2 separate regions of the Homo sapiens genome follow, and region 1 is linked to region 2. The links come from fine-mapping of genetic effects on plasma protein levels. A gene starts in region 2. The other region holds a variant in brackets. All regions are shown on one strand. Distances are from middle to middle. Region 1 overlaps PLXDC1 (plexin domain containing 1). Region 2 holds the start of PLXDC1 (plexin domain containing 1).

What was found. PIP is the chance, under the fine-mapping model, that this variant and not a neighbour inherited with it causes the effect. Protein levels are from antibody-based Olink assays in UK Biobank. Linkage for the fine-mapping came from a reference panel and not from the study's own genotypes, which makes the PIPs less certain.
Region 1: its variant is fine-mapped to the plasma level of the PLXDC1 protein (UK Biobank, PIP above 0.99). The variant lies in the coding sequence of PLXDC1. If it changes the protein, the assay may bind it differently, which can mimic a change of level.

What each region holds. Positions count from the first base shown.
Region 1 is chr17:39,133,546-39,144,119 of GRCh38, reverse strand. It overlaps PLXDC1 (plexin domain containing 1), which reads left to right. Exons shown (of 14, transcript NM_020405.5): 2 at 4,288-4,466. Among named protein-coding and RNA genes, the nearest start is that of PLXDC1, 13 kb to the left of the region's middle. The variant G/A (reference allele first, on the strand shown) is at 4,348.
Region 2 is chr17:39,145,691-39,156,214 of GRCh38, reverse strand. PLXDC1 (plexin domain containing 1) reads left to right here and starts at 4,578. Exons shown (of 14, transcript NM_020405.5): 1 at 4,578-4,853. The coding sequence starts at 4,778. TRC-GCA2-3 (tRNA-Cys (anticodon GCA) 2-3) reads left to right here and starts at 2,410; the gene lies at 2,410-2,481. It overlaps TRC-GCA2-4 (tRNA-Cys (anticodon GCA) 2-4), which reads left to right and starts at 1,653; the gene lies at 1,653-1,724. RefSeq lists a silencer at 1,595-1,664 and enhancers at 1,541-2,045, 2,046-2,552, 2,925-3,074.

The DNA of each region.
Region 1 (10,574 bases), 12 kb after region 2:
CAGGCCTCCACCATCCCGCCTCCTGTCTCGGCTCCAGGTTTGTGAATCCTGAAGATCCCCAACACTCCTCTCTGGGCCGCTGAGCCCCTCCACTTGTTCACTACCCGCTCTATCCTGTTCTGGCTCCTGCCCAGGCCCCAGGGCTGCTTGCAGGAAGACCTGGGGAGCTGGGCAGACCAGCCCAGCACAAACAGCTCTGTCTCCAGAAGCAGCTGTGGGCCCCACCCAAGAGAGACCAGACAGCCCTGGCTTGGGCCTGGGCAGTGGGCAGGCTGCCTTCCCAGCCCTGGACTCATGTCCATCTGTGGGCAGCCAGTGGGCATCTTGGGGAAGGGGTCTGGGGACTGCCCTCCTCCCCACGTGCTCCAGCAGCATCTGGTTGCTATTAGGGGCAGAGAAGTGAGAGGGGGCCGGCAAGGGTCCAGTAGGCGCCAGCAGCCAAGAATGACTTAATTGGATACAATGTCTAATGACAAAGCAGGGCCCCACAGCGGAGTTCTGGCCTCAGCCCCAGGCCTGGGCCTGGCCAAGCCTGGTCTCAACCTCTGTCCTTGCTGGCTCCCAGGAGCTACCCTATGCACTGCGTCCTCAATTCTGCAGTGATGGAGCACCTGCTGTTTGCTGGACATGCCAAATTTGAAGAAGGTGGAGAGAATCCTGGGGGAACTCAAATCTACCAGGGAGATAGGCACATAGTCGCACACGTAGGTGCTCTAGGAGAGGGAGAGCCACATCCAGGAGCTCTGGGGAGTGGGCTGGGGGAAGGCAGAGGTTGAGACAGGTATCTGACACAGGGTGGGCCTGAAATGGAAGAGGGTCATAGGTGGGGAATGTCAGATCCACCTATCTGATGGTCTGTTCTCATATATACATCCATAGTAGGTGTGACCATTAGAATGACAATAAAAGCCACAGCTTTGGGGGGCATAAATCTTTTTGAAGTGGAAAAGGATGGTTTTTGTGTTGTTTATTTATTTATTTGGAGAAGGAGTTTCGCTTTTTTGTCCAGGCTGGAGTACAGTGGCGCAATCTCGGCTCACTGCAACCTCTGCCTCCCAGGTTCAAGCAATTCTCCTGCCTCAGCCTCCCGAGTAGCTGGGATTATGGGTGCCCGCCACCATGCCCGGCTAATTTTTGTATTTTTAGTAGAGACGGGGTTTCGTCATGTTGGCCAGGCTGGTCTCGAATTCCTGACCTCAGGTGATCCACCCACCTCAGCCTCCCAAAGTGCTAGGATTATAGGTGTGAGCCACCACGCCCGGCCTTTTGTTAGAACTAATTTAACAGACCTGGTGCAGTGGCTCACGCTTATAATCCCACCACTTTGGGAGGCCAAGGTGGAAGGACCGCTAGAGCCCAGGAGTTCAAGGCCAGTGTAGGCAACATGGTGAAACCCAGCCTCTACGAAAAATACAAAATAAAATAATAATAACTAGCCGGGTGTGGTGGCATGCAACTGTAGTACCAGCTACTCAGAAGGCTGAGGTGGGAGGATTGCTTGAGCCTGAGAGGTCAAGCGTACAGTGAGCTGTGATTGTGCCACTGCACTCCAGCCTGCATGCTAGAGTGAGACCCTGTCTCAAAAAAAGCATGCATTTAACAACCTAGAGGGAACTGGAGAGGAGATCATGGAACCTAAAGCCATTTCGCAACCTCCAGAAATGGAGGTTCGCATGGCCGCGAAATGGCCTGTGTGTAGTCACTTTCCAATCCTGTGCCCATGGCAGACATTGCTTATTGATCTTCACAGTCCTTCCTGCTAAATACAAGAGGAGCCTTTGCATTCTCAGTTGGAGTGCCTCTGGCTGTCACGAATGGATTGCAGATGGCATGTGATATGAAACCTATTTGCCATCCTAGACAGTATCTAGGTAGTGATAGGAGTAAAACAGTAAAAAATTACCCCTCCCTCAATGGGGCAAGGGGGGGTTAATTTTATTCCCCAGGGGATATTTGGCAATGTTTGGAGACGTTTTTCATTGTCACAGCTTGGGATGGGGAGGAGCGTGGTGCTACTGGCATTTAGTGAGCAGGGGCCAAGGCTGCGGCTGCTAAACATCTTACAGAGCACTGGACAGTTCCCGCATAACAATGAATTATCCAGTCCAACCAACAATCCAATTTAAAAACAGGAAAAAGACTTAAATAGACATTTCTCCAAAGAAGATATACAAATGGCCCACAAGCATATGAAAAGATGTTCGGCATCACTAATCATCAGGGAAATGCCAATTTATAAAAACGATGAGATATAACCTCATACCTGTTAGGATGGCTACTATAAAAAAAACAGAAAATAACAAGTATTGGCAAGAATGTGGAGAGATTGGAACCCATGTGCACGGTTGGTGGGAATGTAAAATGGTCCAGTCATTTTACATGGAAAACATTTTATATGGAAAACAGTATGACAATTCCTCAAAAAATTAGAAATAGAATTACCATACAATCCAGCAATTCCGCTTCTGGGTATATACCCAAAAGAATTGAAGGCCAGGTCTCAAAGAGATATTTGTACACCCATGTTTGTAGCAGCATTGTTCACAATAGCTAAAACGTGGAAGCAAAACAGACATCCATTGATAGTTGAGTGGGTTAGCAAAATGTGGTATATCCACACAATGGAATATTATTCAGCCTTCAAAAGGAAGTCAATTCTGCCATATGCTACGACATGAATGAACCTTGAATTTATTATGCTAAGTGAAATAAGCCAATCACAAAAAGACAAATATAGTATGATGCCATTTATATGAGATACTTAGAGTAGTCAAAATCATAGATACAGGCTGCGCGCTGTGGCTCATATCTGTAATCCCAGCACCTTGGGAGCCAAGGCAGGAAAATTGCTTGAGACCAGGAATTCAAGACCAACCACCCTGAACAAAATAGTGAGACCCTGTCTCTATAAAAAGTAAAAAGATTAGCTGGGCATGGTGGCGCATGCCTATAGTCCCAGCTACTTAGGAAGCTGAGGTGGGAGGATCGCATGAGCCCAGCAGTTGGAGGCTGCAGTGAGCTATGATCGCACCACTACTCCCCAGCCTGGGTGACAGAGCAAGGCCCCATCTCTTAAATAAAATAAAATAACAGGGGTGAATAGGGAGTTATTATTTAACGGGTACAGAATTTTAGTTTTACAAGGTGAAAAGAGTTATGCAGATAGATGGTGGTGATGGTCATACAACATTAGGAATGTATTTAATGTTACTGAATTGTACACTTGGAAATGGTTAGATGGCAAATTTTGTTATGTGTATTTTGCCACAATAAAAAAATTGGAAAAGGAATTATCCAGTCCAAATGTCAATAGTACCGAGGTTGAGAAGCCCTGAACGAAAAGAACTCTGGCTTCTAGTCCCCTGACCCCACTGGGAAATAGGATTATGTGCCATTTCTGCCAGAGAAATAAGAAACTGGTTTGGAAGGCTCAACGGCAATGGTTCTCACCCTTGCCTGCAGAGTTAAGTCCAAGACTCCTCAAAATCTCCCCTGAGGCTCTTTTAAGAAATCGAGGCTAGGCGCGGTGGCTCACGCCTGTAATCCCAGCACTTTGGGAGGCCGAGACGGGTGGATCACGAGGTCAGGAGATTGAGACCATCCTGGCTAACACGGTGAAACCTCGTCTCTATTAAAAATACAAAAAATTAGCTGGGCGCGGTAGCGGGCGCCTGTAGTCCCAGCTACTCGGGAGGCTGAGGCAGGAGAATGGCGTGAACCCTGGAGGCGGAGCTTGCAGGGAGCGGAGCTCGGGCCACTGCACTCCAGCCTGGGTGACAGAGCGAGACTCCATTTCAAAAAAAGAAAAAGAAAAAGAAATTGAATGCCCAGGCTACACCATAGACCAGTTACAAGAGATCTCTAGGGTGGGACCCAGACATCAGGAACTTTTGAAGCTGTCCAGGTGACTCCAGTGTATAGCTGAGGTTGAGAATAATCACCCTTTGGAGGCAGATCAGCTTGGGTTTGAAACTTACCTGCATGCCTAACCCACTGCGTGACTTTTAACCTCTGAGCCTCTGATTCTTGTTTGCAAAATGGAGAACATCCTAACTACTGCGGAGAGCTGGCATGAGGATTAAAAGGATATGTGCGAAGTGCTTGGCCTGGAGCTGGGCACGTGACTCTCAGTACACATTGGGTGTCTCCTGTCCTGGTAGTCAGTCAAGTGTCTGCAAATTCTACAGTGGCATGGTGTTGGGGCCCTTGCAGAATAACTGGGCTGGATTCCCCTCCTGATCTTCATTCCGGACTGCTGGCACTCAGGTTTCTGTCCCCTTCTCCCAGGTCACGATGAGGGCCCAGGCTCTGGATGGGCTGCCAAAGGGACCGTGCGGGGCTGGAACC[G/A]GAGAGCCCGAGAGAGCCCTGGGCATGTGTCAGAGCCGGACAGGACCCAGCTGAGCCAGGACCTGGGTGGGGGCACCCTGGCCATGGACACGCTGCCAGATAACAGGACCAGGGTGGTGGTGAGTGCTGGAGGAACATGGAGGGGGAGCGAAGTGGGGGTGGGGGAGGTCTCACCAGCTGCCCCAGGTGTGCTTGTCCTACATGCAAATCACATATCATTTGGGGTTGGCCCCGGAGGACAGGGTGGAGAGAAGAATCCCCGGGGAGGGGATGGAAGCAGGGCCCAGACTGGGTCATAAAATCACAGCATCTCAGCGTTTCATAGGCTGCCTACTCCCTCCTGGACCCAGAGACATCAAATGGATTGTATCAGGATGCACAGCCTGACCACAGCATTCCTGAAACTGGACTCTCCCATGACTTAGGGAAGAAAAAGCTGACAGTGGCCTTATGAGTCACATCTCAGCTGCCAGATGGGGCCCTTCCCCACCCCATTTCTGCCCCATCTACAGACTGGGGCGCAAGAGGATTAATGGCTGCTTAGCCTAAGGGCTGGGCACTCAGCAGGGGGCTGAGTAGAGAAAGCAATTAGGGTGCAGCTCCTGGAGACAACCTCCTTGGCCTGGGGCAGTTCTGGGGTGCTGGCACAGGGAGGAGAGGCCTGGAGGGAGTGCTCTTCTCTCAGGGTTTCCGGGAGGCTCTTGGAAGCCTCGGTGTGTCTGGGGGTGAATCTATTAATATAATTGTGCGTTTCTGGGAATGGGTGTGTGTGTCATGGACGCTGGGTTCGCACCTGTGTCAGATGATTTTGTATATTATGTATGTGTACCTGTCTGTCACTGTGGGCTGTTTGTGGGTGTCTGTGATGAGCATGTGTAAGTGTGAGTGTGCCTGTGGCTGTGTGTGTAGGTGCCTGCGGCTGGGAGTGATGAGGGTGGATTCTTAGGACGCAAGAAGCAACAAGAGGACCTTCTTCTCAGTATAGATTTATTTTATATTTTAATAACTATTTTCTTAAATTAGTATGTGCTGACAGTTAAAAAAAAAAAAGGTTAAATAGTGCTAAAATCATAAAACAAAACAGCAGTCCTGCCCCTCCTCTCCCCTGGGGCCTGCCCCCTTCCCTTTCTCAGAAGGCTCTGTCTGGGCTGTTTCCTCTGGAGTTTACTTCCATATTTCCAAGGGATTTGCTTATACTGTACTGCTACCTCTCTGTGCACTGGTTTTAGGCCGTACCTATTCATGGCCTGCTGCGGCTCAGGGAGATTTGGCTTTTGTATACTCCCGCTGAGCAACCTTTCACCCTGCCGCCCAATCTTCCTGTTCAATCCGTGTGCTCGGTTGTGGATTGTGACGATCATGTACATAGTGTTCACTTCTAATCCAGGCAGGGTCATAACATTGTTTCTTTTCTTGTATGATTTTGGCTCTTCCTGGATCCTGGCCCCCTCTCCTGCCCTTGCTTACTTAGTTTTCTGTGCCTACCGTAGCTACATTTTCCTACACGTCCCCTAGCCTCAAATGTAATTCCAGTGTGGGCTGGGCATGGTGGCCCACACCTGTAATCCTAGCACTTTGGGAGGCCCAGACGGGTGGATCGCTTGAGCTCAGGAGTTCCAGAATAGCCTAAGCAACATAGTGAGACCCACGTCTCTAAAAAATTAAAACAAAAATTATCTGGATGTGGTGGTTTGCCCCTGTAGTCCCAGCTACTTGGGAGGCTAAGGCTGGAGGATTGCTTGAGCCTGGGCGGTCAAGGCTGTGCTGAGCTGTGACCTCACCAGCCTGGGAAAAAGAAGAAGACTCTGTCTCCGAAAAAATATAAAAGAAAGAAAATAAGATAATTCAGGGTGGTCAAACCTGTCAGTTCCTTTATCCCCCCGAGAAACTTCTCTCCTGTCCTGCACTCCAATCCCGCCCAGCCACTCGCCTGCTGGTACCACGGGTGCCATCCTGGGGCCTCCCTTTCTGTTCGTCCTGGGAACCCCTTTGTCTCCCTCCTGTGTTGGATCCCCTGTTCCCTTGACCCTGTGTCTTCTCTTTCCTGCTTCATCCTTTTGTTTGTTTAGCTTCCTGGGAAAGGTTGCACAGAGGGAAAAATTCCCTTGAGAACGTGCATGTCTGAAGATATCTTTATTCTGTCCTTTCATTTGACTAGTGGTTTGGCTGAATATAGAATTCTAGATTGAAAATAATTTACTTTTTCTTTTTTTTGAGATGGAGTCTCGCTCTGTCGCCAAGGCTGGAGTGCAGTGGCACAATCTTGGCTCATTGCAACCTCCTCCTCCTCCTGGGTTCAAGCGATTCTTCTACCTCAGCCTCCTGAGTAACTGGGATTACAGGTGTGTGCCACTATGCCCAGCTAATTTTTTGTATTTTTAGTAGAGATGGGGTTTCACCATGTTGGCCAGGCTGGTCTCAAACTCCTGACTTCAAGTGATTTGCTAGCCTCTGCCTCCCAAAGTGCTGGGATTACAAGTGTAAGCCACCGCTCAAGGCCTTGAAAATAGTTTTCTTTCACAAGTTTGAAGGCATCTCTCCATTGTCTTCTGGCTTCTGATTCACTGTTAGAGGCTTGGTGTGATTCTTATTTTTGACCTTTGTGTATGCCGGTTTTCCCCTGACTTCTGGAAGCTCTCAGGGTACTCCCTGTAACTCCAGCATTCTGAAATTGCAGTGACATGACCTTCTCTGGCTGTTTTTGTTTGCCATGCTGGACGTTGGGGGACTGTTTCAATCAAGAGACTTACATTTGTCAGTTCTGGAAAGCGTTTTTGCTTTATTTCTTTCAGATTTCTCCTTTCTACAATTCCTCATGGTTAGATGTCCATTTCTGGAAGTGATCCTTCAATTTTTTCTTCTCTCTTCTGCTGTGCGTCTCTTTTGCATTTTTTGTTGTTTATTTGTTAGTGTGCTTGTTGTTCTTCTTTCTGGAGGATTTTCTCAATCTTATTTTCATAATGTCACTGATTTTTTTCTCTACTATCGTATTGTTAATTTCTAAGAGCTCTTTTTTATTTTCAGATTTATTTTTCTTTAACAAAAAAGCATCCTGTTCTTTTTTTGTGGATGTAATATCTTCTCTCTCTGAGGATATTAGAACAATTTTGAGATTTTTTTCCCCTCTGCTCTCTGCATTGTTTCTGTTACTGTTTTTTTCCTTGTATCTCAGGCTCTGAAATGGTTTGGAACCATGACTAAACCTGTATTTCTTTAAAACTTTGGGCCGGGCACGGTGGCTCACGCCTGTAATCCCAGCACTTTGGGAGGCTCGAGGTGGGAGGATCCCTTGAGGCCAGGAGTTGGAGACCAGCCTGGGCAACATAACGAGAACTTGCCTCTATAAAAAACATAATAAACTTTTGATATTCTGTTCATCAAAATATTATTTTTTTGTATTCATTTTGATTTTTTAAAATATTGCATTGAAGTATTCTCTATCTTGATTCCTGAGTTTTGGTGCCATCTTAGATGTTGTACCCCAGGTAGGTGCCTCCTTACCTCACCCTAGTTTGGGCTCCTAGTTTGAGGTGGAACTTCAGGGGACATGGCATCACTCCCTTCCCAATCTGCCCTGTCTTCTTGATCCTGCAGAGCAAGGAGCAGGACTGCCATGGTGAGATGGTGGAGTGGAAGGACAGAGTAGGAGAGGCCCCTGATTAAGGAGACACCTGGCAGTTCATCCCTGACCCCACAGCTTTATTGGGCCATTGGTTGAATAACTGATAACCTGCTCAGGACCAGACACACAGGTCAGAAGGATTATGTCCCAGTCTGCACAAAGAGGACCTTTCAGAAAAGAGCCATGGAGACTTAGATTTCTGGAAGCAATTGTTCGTGGGTGTTCAGAAAGGACAGTGGGGTTCATTAAGAGCCAGTATGGATTCAATAACGCCAGAGCTTAAAAAACACCACAAATTCTCAGGCTCCACCCTGGATGGACTGGTTCAGAAACACTGGGGCAATGGATTTTGGGAATTTGTTGTTGTTGTTGTTGTTTCAAGTTCCCCATGTGTTCCTGGCGAAGTTGCAGAGATTTAAAAATGTGATTCTGATGGTCATGTAGGTGTGGGAACTTTTTTTTTTTTTTTTTTTTAGACGGAGTGTTGCTCAGTTGCCCAGGCTGGAATGAGTGGTGTAATCTCTCGGTTTACTGAAGCCTCTGGCTCCGAGGTTCAAGTGTTTCTCCTGCCTCAGCCTCCCAAGTAGCTGGGATTACAGGCATGCGCCACCACGCCCAGCTAATTTTTGTATTTTTAGTAGAGATGGGGTTTCACCATGTTGGCCAGGCTGGTCTCAGAATCCTGACCTCAGGTGATCTACCCGCCTCAGCCTCCCAAAGTGCTGGGATTACAGGCGGGAGCCACCATGCCTGGCCAGGAACTTCCGATCTATAAGATTTCAAACCAATTTTATAATTGGTGACCCGCTCGATTGTCAGAACATGAGGCTTCCACCATCTCAGGGGCTTTGTGATCCCCTCTGCAGCTACACATCGAGGGTCCACACAGGAGCAAGGCCACCTGGAAGGAGGTCCCTCTGACAGCCATAGGGCTTGTCCCCGGCTCTGCCTAAAGACAGGAGGACCAGGCTTTAAGGGATAACTTATCTGGAGAGTGCAGATGTCAGGTCAGGAACCCGAAGGCCTCATGGGCAGGCTGGAATGACATCTGCCTCGGAACAGATGAAACTACTGGGATAAATATAAATCCTGGCATTTAAGTTTAGAATGAGTTGGGAGAGATGTGGTTTAGCAGCAGCTCACGAGGAAAAGATTTGGGGATCCCCACTTCTTGTGGGCTAGGATGAGTCAGGCGCATAAAGTGGCTGCCAAGGCTGGAGGTGGGAAAGCCAGCTGCATGATGGAAACCTGGGGACTGGGGCTGGGGCTCTGGGGGTCCTGCGGGCTATTTCTTGGGCCTGACTACCATTGAGGGGCTTGTGCTCCCCTTTCAAGTGGTTTCCCAGACACAAGCAGAGTCCAGGGGAGGGCAGCTGGGGTGGTGAAGAGGCTTGCACTCTTGTCCCTGGAGGAATGGTAGAAGGCGTTTGGGGTATTTAGCCTGGTACAGAGAAGGTTCTAGATGTGGTTGTTTTCTTTCTTTCTTTTCTTTTCTTTGTTTTTTCTTTTTCTTTTTTTTTTTTTAGAGACAAAGTCTTGCTCTGTGGCCTAGGCTGGAGTGTGATGGCATGATCTTAGCTCACTGCAACCTCTGCCTCCCGGGTTCTAGCAATTCTCGTGCTTCAGCCTCCTGAATAGCTGGGACTACAGGCACATGCTACCAAGCCCGGCTAATTTTTTGTATTTCAGTAGAGACGGGCTTTCACTGTGTTGCCCAGGCTGGTCTTGAACTCCTGAGCTCAGGCAATCCACCCGCTTCGGCCTCCCAAAGTGCTAGGATTACAGACGTGAGCCACCACACCCCGCCAATGTGGTGGTTTTCCAGCAGCTGCAGGGCTGTGACTGGGGCACAGGGAATAGACTTTATTTTTTTTTCTTTTCTTTTCTTTTTTTTTTTGAGACGGAGTCTTGCTCTGTCGCCCAGGCTGTAGTGCAGTGGCACGATCTCGGTTCACCGCAAGCTCCGCCTCCCAGGTTCACACCATTCTCCTGCCTCAGCCTCCCAAGTAGCTGGGACTACAGGCGCCTGCCACCACGCCCGGCTATTTTGTATTTTTAGTAGAGATGGGGTTTCACCGTGTTAGCCAGGATGGTCTTGATCTCCTGACCTCGTGATCCACCCACCTTGACCTCCCAAAGTGCTGGGATTACAGGCGTGAGCCACTGCACCTGGCCTATTTTTCTCCGTATTACTTATCACCTCCTGCATCAAATTATGTGTATCAGCCAGTCACAGTGGCTCACGCCTGTAATCCCAGCACTTCGGGATGCTGAGGTGGGAGGATTGCTTGAGGCCAGGAGTTTAAGACCAGCCTGGGCAACACAGTGACACCCCCATCTCCACAAAAAATCCATTTTTAAAAAGTTAGCTAGGTATGGTGGTGCACGCCTGTAGTCTTAGCTACTTGGGATGCTGAGGCTGTAGGATCGCGTGAGCCCAGGTGTTGGAGGCTGCAGTGAGCCATGGTCGCGCCACAGCACTCCAGCCTGGGTGACAGAGCAAGACCCAGCCTCAAAAAAATAGAAAAGAATGATCCATGTATTGGTGTCTGTTGCCTATCTTCCCCCTGGAATGTAAGCACAGGAGAGCCGGGACTGTGCCTGG
Region 2 (10,524 bases):
AGCCGGACGTGGTGGCGGGCGTCTGTAATCCTAGCTACTCGGGAGGCTGAGACAGGAGAATCCTTTGAACCTGGGAGGCGGAGGTTGCAGTGAGTTGAGATCGGGTCACTGTACTCCAGCCTGGGCGACAGAGAGAGACTCCGACTCAAAAAAAAACAAAAACAAAAACAAAAAACCCTGGAATTGCTCTTCATTTCCTCAAACCTCCTTCCACCCTCAGGCTTTTTAGCCCCTCAGCCATTTTTGTCCCATTCCCTTTGGGCAAAGGAGATTCTAGCAAGGTGAAGAAGGTGGGCTCAAGGGGAGGAGGGCAGAGGCAAAAACTGGAAGGGGAAATGGAGGAGGACAGGACGTCCCAGATAGGGACAGCCCTTTGCACTGCAGGGATTCCACTTCTCCTCGTCTTCCCATTCCCTCTGAGATGCTGACTCTGACCACAGCTCTTGGACTTTAAGCCACCCCACAGCATCCCCTTTACTTCTAGTGTCCTTCCAATTTGAATCCCACTCCTCCCAAATATACCAGATTCCTAAAGGGGCTGCTTGTTTGTCTTTGTGTAATGATTTTTGTTGTTGTTGTTATTGTTGGAGTCTCGCTCTACCGCCCAGGCTGGAGAGCAGTAGTGGCGCGATCTCGGCTCACTGCAACCTCCGCTTCCCGGGTTCAAGCGATTGTCCTGCCCCAGCCTCTCGAGTAGCTGGGACTATAAGCGCGCACCACCACGCCCTGCTAATTTTTTTGTATTTTTAGTAGAGATGGGGTTTCACCATGTTGGCCAGGATGGTCTCGATCTCCTGACCTCGTGATCCGCCCGCCTCGGCCTCCCAAAGTGCTGGGATTACAGGCGCGAGCCACCGCGCCCGGCCAGGATTTTAAAAAAAATACTGTATTAGGATTTTTATAAGGCTGTAGTAAATGCTATTGAAAAATGCTTACCTCTTATTTCAGCCTTCTCCTCTGTCTGTTCCTCAAACTGGCTTTTGGTTTGAGAGAAGGGGAGGAGCGACCCTGGGGTTGGAAAAGCCCAGGAGACAAGATGGAGATCCAGTCTGTTCATCTGTACATCCCTGGACCTGGGGCGGTCCTGGGGACAGTCCTTTTCTCAAGCCAGTCAGTGGACATTTGGGGGAGAGTCTAGGCACGGATATAGAGGACCCAATATTCCTTTTTTTTTGAGACAGAGTCTCGCTCTGTTGCCCAGGCTGGAGTGCAGTGGCGCGATCTCGGCTCACTGCAAGCTCCGCCTCCAGGGTTCACGCCATTCTCCTGCCTCAGCCTCCCGAGTAGCTGGGACTACAGGCGCCCGCCACCACACCCGGCTAATTTTTGTATTTTTAGTAGAGACGGGGTTTCACTGTGTTAGCCAGGAGGTCTCGATGTCCTGACCTTGTGATCCACCCGCCTCGGCCTCCCAAAGTGCTGGGATTACAGGCGTGAGCCACCGCTCTCGGCCCAAGATTCCTTAATCTAGTTGGTTTTCCGAAAGCGTGGCTATGAAGGAAGAACTCAGGAGTTCTAGCCATTCCCATTGTATTTTGTGTTTTTTTCAGTAGGTATCCCGACGCAACCCTCAGATTAAAACTTTAAGGGAAAATGAAGACCACACCCCTATTCCATAGAAATTAACTCTAATGACAACGTAGTGGCGTGGCGGGGGTATAGCTCAGTGGTAGAGCATTTGACTGCAGATCAAGAGGTCCCCGGTTCAAATCCGGGTGCCCCCTCTGTGCTCCGGAGTTACCTCGTTTTGTTGGTCTCCGGAGGTCCTCTAAAGAGTTCCCGCACAGATGGAATGGGAGGGAGTCTCGAGCCCTGCCACCCTTTTTGCTTTCGCAGGCGAGTGAGGATGGAGTCCTGGCCCCTGCCAGTGGCTCAGCCTGTGTGTGTACCCAGGGTAGAATGCAATGCGAGTGAGGGCGAGGAGCTCCGGGCTGACCCTTGGAACACGGTACGGGTGGCTCAACCTCGCAATGGCAGGGCGGAGGCGAGCGCACCCCCAGGTCAGCCTGGCTCTTTCTTGGCGGGAAGGAGGCTGAGTTTCTAAGGGCTGGGCTGGGGAAGACAGGTCGGGAGAAGCCGCGTGAGCATGTGGGAGGGAGAAAGAAGCTCCGAGACGTGGCAAGGGGTCTTCTGCAGGGCAGGAGAGTGGGACGCCCCCGAAGTGAAATATTTCGAGAGACTTCTCCTTCCACACCCCAGGAATATATTTTCTTATACTGCCAGTGGGGATCTTCAGCTCAGAGCTTCAGGGAACAACCCCTGCTTCCAAGTGAGTAATTCTTCTGGGAGTTGTATTTTTTCCATCTCTTGTAAACGTCTTACCCCACTTCCACTTCCCTTCGGGAACGCCACACAGCGCCTGCGCAGCAATACCACTAAACGACTACGTGCGGTCGGTTTGCCGGCAGAGGGGGTATAGCTCAGTGGTAGAGCATTTGACTGCAGATCAAGAGGTCCCCGGTTCAAATCCGGGTGCCCCCTCTTTGGCCTTTTCGAGATACTGTTTTTGTCCTGGGTGTCGATTTTTCCTAAGCTGTTTGCTTTTACTCCTACTGGCAGACGAGGAGCAGTGAGGGACTGAAAGGAACTGGGGATTCAACAGCAGTGGCTCTCAAAATGTGGTCCTGGGACCAGCAGCATTACCTGGGTACGCTCGGGCCTCATCCCAGACCTAATGAATTAGAAACTTGAGGGTGGAGTCCAGAAATCTGTGTTTTCATATACGCTCCCCATCGCTTGAGTCCAGGAGTTGGAAGCTGCAGTGAGCTATGATCGCAGCACTGCACTCCAGCCTAGGCAACGTGCGAGAACCTGTCTCAAAAAACAAACAAAATACACACACACACACACACACACACACACACACACACACACACACACCCTGCAGGTGATTACGATCTCAAGTTCTAGAGGCTTACGTTAAAATTTACACATTTGCTTCTACTATTTACAAGTTTATGTTTCAGCCTGAGCTCTTCTTGTAAGACAGACCACGAGGTACCCCAGATGGAGGAATGTGCAAAGACGCCGGGGCTGGAGCTGGAATCCGTCCCGAGACTTCTCACCTTGACCTCGAGGAAGGCAGGAGGTCGGAGACAGGGGGTGGGCAGGCTGGGGAAAGAGGAAACCCGCAGGACAAGAGGGTTGTGGCTCGTCACGTGGCCACTTGAGGGCAGCAAGTAGCTGCAGCTGGAGGTAGCTGCCTATCTGATTCTGTTTGAGAGTCCGCCAAGTTGGGATTTAAATTAGACATCAAGAAGAATTTACAGACCGGCCTTGCCTTGTTCCACGGTAAGGGGACATTGGGTTTAGGGCTGGAGGAGGTAGTCTCTGGGACTCTGGGCCCGGCGGAAGGAGGAACCGGCGTTCTAAGAGATTAGAGAGCCTTTAGTTGTTTCCTTTCTTAGGTGTTTTTTTTTCTTTTCTTTTCTTTTTTTTTTTTTTAACCTCAGTGCCACGGAATCCGTCTCTTCCAGCCCACAGTGTACCTTCTCCTGTCCCCGCCCATATCCCTCCTCCTGGAAAATTTCTCCAATGGCGCTCAGCGTTCGCACCCTTCCTCTCCGCGGTTTTCTAGTCCCTAGGCCCCAGCCCACTAGAAGCCAGGATGCCCCCTCACCCCGTCTCCCACTCTCCAGCGCCCCAGCTCCTTGCCGTCACAAGAACGAAGTAGGTCAGGGGAGGGAAGAGGCATCTTCGTGTCCTGACCTGATTCCTTGCCGTCTATTAAATATCCTACATTGCGGGTATTTTTATTCTGTCCTGGAAGAAAAAATAAAAAGATTATCTATCCCCAGAGCCTGTCAGAAGGTGGTGACAGGTGGGGTGAGCCATTTCCTCGTCTGGGGCTGGCTCTGAAGATTGATTGGGTCTGGCCCTGAGTAGGCCTGGAGGCCCCAGAGAGGCAGGAGGCCTGGGTTACCTACTCGTGGGGAGGGGTCCAGACTGTTGCAGAGTAAGGGGTAGCCAGGCCCCCTCCACCCTCACGTCTGCTAGGCTTGGGGGGCAAATCGGTGCTGGAAATGGGGGGTGGAGGGATAAGGTGGAGTCATGGAAGGGGGGTGGGATTCAGGCCCCTCTTGGGGAGAAAAGCTGGGGGTCTTTGCTGCAGGGGGAGATTTCTGGGGGTGGGGGCTGGAGGACAAAGCATCAGAGACGCACAGAATTCCGAAGAACAGCTCAGGAAGTCGCAGAGCTTGGAGGAGCTGGGGGCGGGGAACAGTCAGGGGCCCGTGACCCAGGGATGGGGCGCCTGTCCCTTCCAGGGGTCCAGTCCTCGGGCCTTCTCTCTGCAGCTTTCCCGGCGGAACGGAGGAGGGAAAGGGAGCCAGGAGCTCAGTGAGGAGCGCGGGGCGGCTGATGCTTCTAGGGGTTCTCTCAGCCCGAGGGGCTCCCGCCCTGTCCCCTACTCTGCACCCCTTGCCTTGGGAGCGGCTGCAGAGCTCTAGGGGAGCGCTCCGTTAGGGCTGAGGGCAGGCGCCGGGAGAGCCCCCAACGACGCCGCGCCCCCCGCCCCGCCCCCTGCCCCAGCTCCCCCCCACCCCCACCGACCCAGCGGCCCCCCCAGCTCCCCGCCTGCTCCCGGAGGCCGCAGCCTCCAGCTCCGCTCGCGCTCTCGCCGCTCCTGCCGGCTCGCCCGGCCCCGCGCTCCGCCGTCTCCTCGCCGCCCGCCCCTCCGCCAGCCCCGGGGACCGCGCGGCCGCAGCCTGAGCCAGGGCCCCCTCCCTCGTCAGGACCGGGGCAGCAAGCAGGCCGGGGGCAGGTCCGGGCACCCACCATGCGAGGCGAGCTCTGGCTCCTGGTGCTGGTGCTCAGGGAGGCTGCCCGGGCGCTGAGCCCCCAGCCCGGAGCAGGTAGGACTGGCGGGAGCCGGCCCGGGTGGGCCGGGGGCGGGGAGGGACGGGCAGTCAGGTGTGGGCATGGGCAGGTGTGGACGGCCTGGCGATGTCCGCGAGGGGGGCATTGTCCGCAGGAGGCCAGGAGAGCTGTGGGCTGTGGGCAGGTGGATAGGGACCCCACTTTCCCAAACACATAGGGTGTGTGAGTGACGGTGGAGACACCGATGCCCGGACCTCTCCTTCTCTCCTGGAAGGATACTGGAGGGACCTTAGGAGAGGGGGCTCTATGTGGCCATGGGCTCTGAAAGGGGACAGCGGGAGAGTCATCAGGACCCCTGATCACCCCAGGCAAGGCTGAATTCTGATGAGATGGGAGCCTGGGGAGGCCCCTGCCCCAGCCATGCCTTCTTTTCCTCTTCTCTGCCACACCCCCGACCCCAAAGCTGATCCAGGCTAGGGATAGGTGGGAGCAGCCAGGGGGATGGTGGGGACACAGCGTCTCTGCCTGGGAAGGCAGCAGCCATTCGGTCACCTTCCCTTGCCTATTTGGTGTCAGTAGAGAGGCAGTGGGCCCAGGAAGAAGCAACTTGCTGCTTCTGCACCCCCAGCCTCAAGAGTCCCCCTCCTCACACCTGCTCCCATTTGCCCTGGCAGCCTTTGGCTTTCAGCTACTCTGGCTCTAGATGGGGCACTGGGGTAGGGGGTGGAGGGAGGCGTCCCATTCTGCACACTCCTCTTCCCCCCTACCAGTTCTCCAAACTCATCTCTCCCACCTGGAAGTCCTTTCTGAGATCTACCTGGAATCCCTCATGGTATAATTTTCATAGTCTCTGTTCTCCCCTAAGCACCTAGACTTTCTCTGGGGTTGGGGAGATGGGTAATTTGCAGCCTGGCCCCTCAGCAGAGATGATTAAGAAGATAGATACCTGTGCATCATTGGCATGGGTGCCCCTCAGGTGGGGTGAGGGAGGCGCTGTTGAGGTGAGTGCTGTGGTTGACCTGCTGTGTCTCAGGAGTGTGCTGGCACCAGGCACAGTGTCAGTGGCAATGTTCTTGACTTTAATGGTCCCAGCATGTAGCTGAGACAGACCTGGGTCCCTATTGAGAAGAAGAGTATGTTGGGGGTGGGAGGGGAAGGAGGCTGACAGTGGGAAGTATGGGCAGAGGGCAGTGGAGCTGACGAACCGAGAAGCTGCTGGTGAGAACCACCAATTTTCAGGGAGACCACACAGAGGGTGGCCAGAGACGTGGCTTCTAGTCCCGCCATCTCACTTGCTGTGTGACTTTAGACAAGTTACTTTCTCTCTCTGGACCTATTTTTGCATTTATAAAGTGAGGCTGTTGGCAAAATCTTTGACTCTTGTGCGTGGAATAATGAAGGATCTTTTATAATTGCCTTTCCTTTTCATATTTGTTAGGGTCTTTATGGGTAACTGATACTTTAAAAAAATCAAGGTAAACAGGAGAGAGTTGGATATGTTATGAATAATTTCTGGGCTCCTTTGAATCCTCAACCTGGTGTGATCTTCTGAACTCTGGGTGTAACAGAGTTTATGAGGGGAGGATCTGAACCTTTGGCTGGATTGTGTGAACCACGGAGAGGGCTGGGGAAGGGGGAATTGGGAGGTAACAAGGATGGGCTGGGAGATAGTGGCCAGACCCGGGCCTGGCTGAGGGCGGCCCCTTCAGAGTAGGGTTGGGGTAGTAGACGGTTGAGGAGACCAGGAAGAGTGGGGCAGGCAGAGACTTGAATCACTTCTCTAAGTAGAGGCTATCCTGTCTTCTTGGCTTTGACAGAGATTGAGCCAGGAGAAATGCACTTTTTCTGCAGCAGGAGGGATAGAGGTTAGACTTAAGGAATCTGTAAGAAGCCAGAGGCGGCAGCTGTTGACTCCCAGTCCGGTGCCCTTTTCACAGGCCAGGTGGGATTTCACAGGCAGGAGGACCTATGAGGAGGAAGCGGGTGTCTGGGGAGGCCAGATGTAGGAGAAGGACGTTCTGGGGGAGAGTTGCTAAGGAGGGGCAGCCTGACCTGATTGATGGCGGAGTTGTTGTGACCAGTGGAAGGGCAGCTGGGAGCAGGACCTGAAGAGATGCTAGCATCCTTCCCCAAGGCTCTGGGTTTGTGGGGCTGGTGGGGGGCCTTGGGAAGTAGCTGAGATCTCCCCTCGCTCCTGATGGACAGGCTTGTTTGGTAGAGCCTTGAAACCTCATCTATCATTAGAACAGCAGCAGCAGAGAGATGAGTGGCCCAAAGACAGAGTCAGACAGCAGGGGAGACCAGGATGACAGACAGGAAAATGGCCTTGGGGTGCAGAGCAGGGGCCCAGGGAACTGACAGTCTGGTCAGATGGAACCAGAGGTGCATATGACAGATAAAGAAGAGGCAGCGAGAGTTGGCATCCTGGCCTGGGAGTCCTGCAGGAGGCCAGGCTCAATACCAACTACTGGTGACCCTGACAGCTTCCTCCTTTCTCTGAGGAAGGTTTCCCCGTCTATAAAATGGGGGCTTGCACCAGTCACGGTGGCTCATGCTTGTGATCCTAACACTTTGGGAGGCTGAGGTGGGAGGATAGCTTTAGACCAGGAGTTTGAGACCAGCCTGGGCAAAATAGTGAGACCCCATGTCTATAAATGATTTAGGCCAGGCAGGGTGGCTCATGCCTGTAATCCCAGCACTCTGGGAGGCCGAGGCCGGCGGATCACCTGAGGTCAGGAGTTTGAGACCAGCCTGGCTAACATGGTGAAACCCCGTCTCTACTAAATATACAAAAATTAGTATATTTAGTATTGTTATTAATATTATTAATATTAGTATATTAGTAAAAATTAGCCAGGCGTGGTGGTGCATGCCTGTAATCTCAGTTACTCAGGAAGCTGAGGCAGGAGAATAGCTTGAACCCGAGAGGCAGAGGTTATAGTGAGCTGAGATCGCACCACTGCACTCCAGCCTGGGCAACAGAGTAAGACTCTGTCAAAAAAAAAAATTAAAATTAAAATAAAAAATTAGCTGGGCATGGCGGTGTGCGCCTGTAGTCCCAGGTACTCGGAAGGCTGAGGCAGGAGGATCGTTTGAGCCCAGGAACTGGAGGCTGCAGTGAGCTATGATCATGCCACATAGTGAGGGCAGCATAACGAGGTCCCATCTTTTTTTAAAAAAAGGAGGGAAGGAGGTTGGACCAGATTGTCTCTAGGGCTCCAACAACCTGAGACTAAAATGCGAACTTATGGAGGTCAGGCAGCCCCTCCCTCATCCCACCATCTTCTCTAGCTCTCCCCAGATTCACCCCTTAACCCACTCCAGCTGCCGTCCCCTCCGATCGACAGATAACTAACTGGCTTCTTCTCATTCAGGTCTTAATCAGCTCAAGGGGACCCTCCTCAGAGAGCCCCACCTCATGGCTCTGTGTAGAGTAGCAACAACCCCAACCCTTTCCTCTGTCTGATTTTCTTCATAGCCCTTACCAAATGATTCATTTTGTATGTCTCCATGAAGAAAACTAGACTCTTCCTGGGTACAGGGCTTGTGTCCCCCCAGCACCCAGCACAGTGCCTGCGACTCAATAAAAGTGTATTGAATGAATGAGTGAGTGACTGAGTGAGTATATCAGAGGTGGCACAGATCCCAGACTCTCCCCTCAAGGGACACACATAGAGAGCTGAACTCTTCTTGCTGTCCCTCCCTTCCCCTCCCCTCCCCTTCCCTCCCTCCCTCTTCCCTTCTGCTACCTGGTGGTCCCTCCCTGCACTTCCTTTGACTCCTTCCCTCTCCCCAGGTGAGGGTCCTCAGTGGGTCCCTACCTGCCAGAGGAAAGGGAGAGGGTATGGTTAGGGGCTTTGTAACTTGGAGGCAGGATTTCAGTTTAGGGTTTGGAGCCTTCCCTGGCCCCTCTGAAAGCTGGTCCTGTGACCCTAACTGGTGTGTTGCCCAAGGTGCAGCAAGTTGACACACCAACACCGAGGGGGCAGCAGAGAAAGAGTTTCATCATCGTGGGGCAGCATTTGGGGCTAGAGGTTTTATGGGGTTTGGGGTGGGGTGGCCAACGTGTGGGAATTGTTAATTGGTTGAAGAGTGCATGAAGAAATAAAGAAACTGCATTCTCATGTTAAATCAGTTCCTCGGCTGGGCGCGGTGGCCCGCGCCTGTAATCCCAGCACTTTGGGAGGTCGAGGTGGGTGGATCACAAGGTCAGGAGTTCGAGACCAGCCTGCCCAATATGGTGAAACCCTGTCTCTACTAAAAACACAAGAAAATTAGCTGGGCGTGGTGGTACATGCCTGTAATCCCAGCTACTTGGGAGGCTGAGGCAGGAGAATTGCTTGAATCCGGGAGGCAGAGGTTGCAGTGAGCCGAGATCGTGCCACTACACTCCAGCCTGGGTGACAGAGCGAGACTCCGTCTCAAAAAAAAAAAAAAAAAAAAAAAAATCATTTCCTGTCTGAGGGTCTTCGAATTGGCCCTTCTGCTGGAATTCAGGATCCGAAAACCATCTTAATCCTTCTTTTTTTTTTTTCTTTTTTGAGACAGGGTCTCACTCTGTTGTTCAGGCTGGAGTGCAGTGGTGTGATCATAGCTCACTGCTGCCTCAACTTCCTGGGCTCAAGTGATCCTCCTGCCTCTGCTTCCTGAGTAGCTGGGACTGCAGGCATGCACCACCACATCTGGCTAATTTTTTAAAATTTATTATTAATAATAAATTAAATTTTATAATACCTTTTTTTATTATAAAAAAGACAAGGTCTTGCCATGTTGCCCAGGCTGATCTCCAACTCCTGGGCTCAGGTAATCCTCCTGTCTTGGCCTTCCAAAGTGCTGGGACTACAGGCATGAGCCACCATGTCCAGACTTTAAAAAAAATTTTAGTAGAGATGGGGTCTTGCTATGTTGTCCAGTCTGGTCTCGAACTCCTGGACTCAAGTGATCCCACCACCTCACCCTCCCAAAGTGTTGGGATTATAGGCATGAGCCACTGCACCTGGCCTTAAACAATTCTTAAATAAAAGCTGGCCAGGCGTGGTGGCTCATGCCTATAATCCCAGCACTTTGGGAGGCCAAGGCGGGAGCATCATTTGAGGTCAGGAGCTCAAGACTAGCCTGGCCAACATGGTGAAACCCCATCTCTGCTAAAAATATAAAAATTAGCTGGGTGTGGTGGCGCACTCCTGTAGTCCCAGCTACTTGGGATGGTGAGGCAGGAGAATTGCTTGAACCCGAGAGGTGGAGGTTGCAGGGAGCTGAGATCACACCAATGTACTCCAGCCTGGGTGACATATCGAGATTCCCTCTCAAAAAAAAAAAAAAAAAAGGAATGGGCCGAAGTGCAGCCTGATTAATGCTTAATTACTCCTATACTTCTGCCCAGAACCCGGCATGTAATTCTTGTTAACCCTGAGAAGACGGTTTCAGTCCTCATGTGAAACCCAGGGAAGGCAGGGCGACTTGCTGGGTGCTCTGTGTATATGATTTTGTTAAAGTGTCAAACCTACCAAGTTTATGTTTTATCAGCCCCATCTCACAGATGAGGAAACTGAGTCTTAGAGAGTGTGTGTAATTTGTCCAATGTTGTAGTTAGTAGGTGGTAGATTCAGGGTTCAGTGTCTAGCTTGTCTGATTCCAAACCTGTGTTGTTTTACTGCTCTGATACTACAATGAAGTTCCAAGGGAAGGGTGTTTCCAGTTCGGTGT